Linked DNA regions of Homo sapiens: region 2 is reported to be linked to region 1. Evidence: microRNA targets listed by miRTarBase, many of them from high-throughput screens and not tested one by one. Region 1 holds a microRNA gene; the other region holds the end of a gene's coding sequence.

Region 1 (3,137 bases):
GCTTTCTGATCCTTCTCTCTCTCCATTGTATCACTCTGCAGTTTCCCTGTTGATTCTCCAACTTTGCCATCTGCTTGGCAAAATTCAAGAAAGGTGGCACTTATTTAATTGATTGTAGCTTTCATGGCAGTCACACCTTCCAAGCCTTCCATCAGGCCAGCCAGGCATGATTTCCTTTGTTTCAGTCCCTCTTGGTGTTCTCTAATTAAATATGCTTTTTCCAGATGTTTCTCCACCGTATTCTTTAAGGTTGTTTCCACCATTTTTCCCTAGATCTAATGTCCATTATTTTGCCTTTTGCCCTTCTCTTTTTAGTAATCAGTTAATAATCGTGTTTGCCATGGGGAAGTCCTCAGGAATACTTCTGTTGTATTTCAAAATGAGCTGAACAGTTTTTTTGTTGTTGTTGTTTTTTAATCTCAGAAGTGTGTGGCTTAAAAGAAAAGTAAAGAAATGATATGAAAGTTTAACCATAGATGAATATACTTGGAAAAGCACAAGTAGATGAAGACTGGGGATGGGAGTGGGCATTAATCAATTAATTTAAAAAGCACGATAGGGTGGGCGCAGTGGCTCACACCTGTAATCCCAGCACTTTGGGAGGCTGAGGCGGGCAGATCACGAGGTCAGGAGATCGAGACCATCCTGGCTAACATGGTGAAACCCTGTCTCTACTAAAAATACAAAGAAATTAGCCAGGCGTGGTGGCAGGTGCCTGTAGTCCCAGCTACTCGGGAGGTTGAGGCAGGAGAATGGCAAAAACCCGGGAGGCGGAGCTTGTAGTGAGCCGAGGTCGCACCACTGCACTCCAGACTGGGCGACAGAGCAAGACTTCATCTCAAAAAAATAAAATAAAATAAAATAAAATAATTAAAAAGCACAATTAGATGAAGACTGGGGGTGAGAGTGGGCATTAATTAATTAATTAAAAAAGCACAATTAGATGAAGACTGGGGGTGGGAGTGGGCATTAATTAATTAATTTAAAAAGCACAATTAGATGAAGACTGGGGGTGGGAGTGGGCATTAATTAATTAATTATAAAAGCATAATTAGATGAAGACTGGGGGTGGGAGTGGGCATTAATTCCTCAACAGCACATGGTATTTTTCAGGTTTCTCCCAATGAGTTCAAAGAGTTTCATTGAAAGTATATCCTTGTAGTTGCTAGTGTCTAGGAGACACACTCAGACTTCCAGTTTTACTCAGCACCTACCACCTGTACTCTTCTGAGGTTCTTTGCCATTCCTGCTGGTCAGGAGTGGATACTGGAGCAATAGATACAGTTCCACACTGACACTGCAGAAGTGGAGATCTCTGGAGTCTCTGCAACCCCACCCTCTCTTCACAGGGAGCAAGTTACTTCTTGAGTATAACCTGGGAATTTTAGAAAGTTTATCTTTTTTCATAAATGAAAGTTTATGTTTTAGCATTGTACTGGTCAGAATCCTCCAGTATTTAAGCAAAACTAACCAGTACGGTCTTTGTTTAGTATACATGTATTTTGCAATAACAGGAGCAGTCATCACCATTTAGTGTCAAGCTTGATTGACAGGGCCCCTGGGAATCTGTGGTTTCTGTTGTGTAGAAACCACAGAGCTTGTTATTCTTCAACTGGAATTGGGAAGCGGAGCCCAAGAGAAATGTTCTTGACCTTCAGTCACTAAGGCGTTACTACCAGACTGCTGGCAATCCATCAATGAGCGACTTTGTCACCCAAGACTCCGAGCTTGTCTTCTCCCCAGACTGGACAAGGCACCTTCACGCAGAATAGTTTCAGGTTTCACTGTGTTCTTAATTACATTTAATGAGGATCATTGAGATCCTTATAAAAAGGTGAAAACAGGTACAGCTGTTATTGTATTCCACTAAGAAAATGTGTAGAGTGCAAAACAGAAGTGTAGGCCTCATTGTGGTACAATTGAGAGACCATGCCTTGGGCCCATGGGCTTTGATGGCGGCCACATCTGATTGACTTCTGGTTATGAAACTTATTAGCTAAACCAGGCTCAAAGTAATGAACCTCTTATAAGTCTTATCAGTCAAATTAATGAACCTTAGTTTCCTCATCTGTGAGATGGTCTCAGTAATACCAATGTCATAGACAATTAGCTGTGTACATTTCTGTAGACATTATATGAAATGTTATATGTGAAACTGCCTGCAATATAGGTACTCAATCAAAAAAATGTGAATTTTCATTTGCTCCCTGCAGTCTTACTATCTGGCTGCCTGTTACTTTGAAAACCATGTGTATGAAACAGTAACAGGCTACCTAAAAAGAAAAAAAGAAAAAAGAAAATGATGTGGGACCACATCTGTGTGTCTAGCAGGCATGGACCTTCCCTCTGGATCTGTTTGTTCTGACCTTGTCTTCTAATTGAGCTGGATAATTACATGGTAGGAACTCTCCCCAACATCAGGGCCGAGAAATGCTGTCACCATGTTTTAATGCAAAGGCACTTTGCCAAGGATAATAGTCGATACCACGGGCATTGTTTTAGGTGAGATAAAGGAATCATCTGTGAATGAATGCTGTGTCCCTTTAGAGAAGGAAAAAATGAATCGGCAGCCCCAACAGCAACCCAATATCCAAAGACTTTCAGTGAATTTCATTTTGTTCATTTTTCTACCAAATATGCACTTTTGAAGCTGTCTTTGCCTGATAGTCTCCAACTTGGTGTCACAGGGCTCGTGGGCTTTAAGCTGTTAACCTTGTTTTATTTCTCCCCTTTTTGGAAATAGAACCATTTTCTCCTGAAATACCTTTGTAGCCTTTTTTCTTTTCTACTCAAAAGCACCTTATTTCCATTTTGCATAATTATTATGTACTATTTTTCAAATTATGATGTCTCTGCTATTGGAAACAACATTGTTTAGTGAGTTTGTGGGTGAAATAGCTTAGCCTTCTGCACTCACATGTGTCTCTGTCTGAACGACTGGATATTTCTAACCTGTATTGGTCCTATATTATCTAATTCCTTGAGGTTTATGATGACGGATATGTTAAAAAAAAAATCTTCAATTCCTCTTTATTCTTAGGGAAACATTGTAAAGCAAAATTTACTTAGAAATTCTTCCTACTTTGCAAAAGAAAGAAGGTGGCCCTTTTTCTCCCCCAGGAGAGAGATCGTTAGCT
Region 2 (3,076 bases), not on the chromosome of region 1:
GAGAACACATCTAGCCTCTGCTTCTAACTAGTCCTTAATTGTAGCTTCCAAGGGAGAAGCCACGAATCTAACTGGACAGAGCACAATCAGTATGAGACCACCTTGTAAATGCAGGCATGCAACCTTCATTGACAAACAGCGCACATTTACCAGTATCTCAGACAACTGAACATGTGACCAATCTCCTTCCAACTTCCCTCCCCTCTTCCCGTGTTGTTACTCTCCCTACACACACAGGTTGGGGGGAGTAGAGGTAATATCCTGGGATCTACACAAGGGTCTAGCTGTCTTGAATTCAATGAGGGAAAAGAAGGAAAACTGCTTTGGCCCCAGACATAAATCACATTCTTTTAAGCACACAGCAACTTATAAGGAGCTTGCCCAGACTTAATAGCGTTACTCTGCTTCTCATTAAGCTAGTGATCCTCGTGTAGGGGATCCAAAAGTAGGGGAAAGGTGAGTGATATTCTGCACTTTTTTCATACAGAAAAAAACAATGAAGTCTTGGATAGAACGAAAGGACTTAAGAGCCCCAGTGATATTCATCATTAACCAAACAAATGAGTCGTTATATAGGTTAGAAAGGGCCCTGGATCCAGATGGTCACAGTTGAAATGCATATATATTGACAGACAGAGATCAAACAATCTCTTCTGGCCTTTTCTCATTATCTCAGGTTAGCGCCGTTTAGAGCAATAAACTTTTACTGTAGCCACACTTATCCTTGTCCTGGAGAGATAAAGTACGGGATTGATACATTTCAACAGGGAACAAGGCAGGAGTTGAGGGCAAGCAGACAATGCTAACAGCAAGCTTTGGCAGGGAGAGAAGGCAGCCCCAGGTCTGATGTCTGGGGTGGAAGCTAAGGGAAGGAGCCAAAGAGGATACAAAGGAAGACAAGAGAACACTCTTTAGGGATGGCTCTGATTGGATATATTTTTCATTACTGAACATTTCTATGAACTATTATATAGTTTTAATATACTATGTATGTACAAAATGAATTGCATTTCATTCCAAATTTCCACAGATCATAAAGCTCAGAAATTTAGCTGAATCCTAGCAGTTAAAATCAGGATTCATACACAGAGAACCTAAATAGATTTTGTCACTTGTCACTCTGGCTTTTTTCCACAACATGGTTTTTAAAAAGATACAATATGAGCTTCAAAAAAAATTAATTGATCCATTATTTGCAAATACATTACAGAATCTCAGATGATAAAAAACAAACAAACAACCAAAAAAAACAAACAAAAAAGACATATCTTATTCGGACACTTAAAATTTTCAAGTACTTTTGCCTTAAATATGAAAAGGTAAAATACATAGGCAACCTGAGGGCAGGGAAAATACAAGATACACTTTTTAGTTTTTCCTTCTGCTTTTCCAAGAACCACAATCACTCCAGACATCGCTTATGAGAAACAAGGGTGGGCAGAGGATGCTGTGCTGAAGGCAATCAATTCTGCACAGCTCACCAAGCAATTGCTGCACCTGCAACACAGGTATGCCCATGGATTCAGATCAGTTTATGACAGTTACTAAGAAACAGCCCTTGGGTAACTGTTCCTGTAAGAAGCATTCTCTCTTTAGTTTTATATTTAAAAATGTGAGGACTGGATCAGATAATGTGGCATGATGAAAAGACTCATGAGTGGGAGGAACATCCACCAGAAGGTGTCAAAGATCACCACTGCCTGGGTAGCCAAGCTCAACGGCATGGTCTCCTCAGGAGGAACGAAATCCAATCAGAACTATATGGACAGCTAACGCTGCTAGATATTGCTTAGTAGTCATCTCACATAGTAAGTCACTGGAATTACATGCTTATGAATAATATTGAATTTGCTCATATAAAGCTGTCACTGTATCACAAAATAAAATGATTTTTAAAAAATGTGGGTCTCTAGTCTTAGAAGTGTAAATTTTAAATATTAGGGCAACCAACTGAAATAATGGAAGCAAGCATAAAAGCTAAAAAATAATGAAAAGGCTTGCAAAACCTATCACAGCAAGAAAACATGATTATGATTTGGGCTGGTCAGTGTCACACTTGTTTTCAAAGTTTGTACCCCTGAGACAACTGTTTGATAACCATTATACAGTAGGCACAGAAATAAGCATACTTTATCAAACAAAACACTAAATCGCTGTCACTACATTAAAAATTATATTAATTTTTGTGAATGCTGTGGATAGAGGAGAATAATCTTAGAAGTTTTAAAATCTGTGCTTGGTTTTCATCTAGAAAGGAGTAAACGTCAGGCAAATAAACTTCACCTGTTACTTGGACATTTTCTCCCTGGCCTGCAAATCCACTTACAATTCCACCAAGTATACACATGAGAAAACCACAAACAACAGAACAGAAAACAGTTGCGGCGGGATTTGTTTTACATGTACGTACAAGTAGGTATTAGCCTTGAAATGCTTCTTGAAGGTAGAGTACATGAGAATTCTTTGGCTTGATCACAAAGAGCTCCCAATCTTGAGTTTTGTGGATTGAGGATTCTGAGTCACTATACTTTGGCTTTTAGACTACATTAAAAGCACATGAACACTTTCAGTGTAACTTAACATGTAGTGAAGTTCACCTCCTAACAATACTTCACAGGATCCCTCCAAGAATGCCCAGTGCTGATGTAGCAACACTAGCAGTAAGAGCTTATTGAGATGGCTGACTGAAGTGACACGGTGACACTGTTAATCGTTTGGTTTGTTCTGAAAAAAGTTTGTAAAGGACCACCCTCCTCCATTAGATTTAGGAGAGTCTTCATCTTTAGGAGGAATCAAAAATTGTCGGGAATTAATGGAGCATGGACTTCCAAATGAGACAATCTCACTGTTGCTGTCTATGGATCTAGGAGAGTCTGGAGACACTAAATTCCATGTATTTACATTGGCCTGAGGTCTGTAACCCGCAGTTTTATCTAAGTCCTCTTCTGCAGCTATATCTTCCACAGTAGAATTAATGGGGAGGTGCATCTGTGGCTTATAGCCTGCCCCTCCTACAGGGTCATTTTCTTGTTCTTCTTCTGGTTTTGCTTGAGGCTGATACATCGACTGAACATCA

The links. The annotated mature microRNA hsa-miR-3692-3p reads GUUCCACACUGACACUGCAGAAGU and lies in region 1 at 1,284-1,307, shown strand. An mRNA with a match to its seed (bases 2 to 7 or 8) in the 3' UTR can be bound and repressed. Matches are read on the target gene's strand: a 7mer-m8 pairs with bases 2 to 8, a 7mer-A1 pairs with bases 2 to 7 and ends in A, and an 8mer does both.
Region 2: the mRNA of LIFR is a reported target of hsa-miR-3692-3p. Seed matches in the 3' UTR shown: 8mer at 1,129-1,136 and 8mer at 1,022-1,029.

What each region holds. Positions count from the first base shown.
Region 1 is chr6:157,527,892-157,531,028 of GRCh38, forward strand. It overlaps MIR3692 (microRNA 3692), which reads left to right and starts at 1,241; the gene lies at 1,241-1,309. All of the region lies in intron 1 of ZDHHC14 (zDHHC palmitoyltransferase 14), which reads left to right. RefSeq lists an enhancer at 2,858-3,137.
Region 2 is chr5:38,478,889-38,481,964 of GRCh38, forward strand. It overlaps LIFR (LIF receptor subunit alpha), which reads right to left. Exons shown (of 20, transcript NM_001127671.2): 20 at 1-3,076. The coding sequence ends at 2,707. Among named protein-coding and RNA genes, the nearest start is that of EGFLAM-AS5, 12 kb to the left of the region's middle.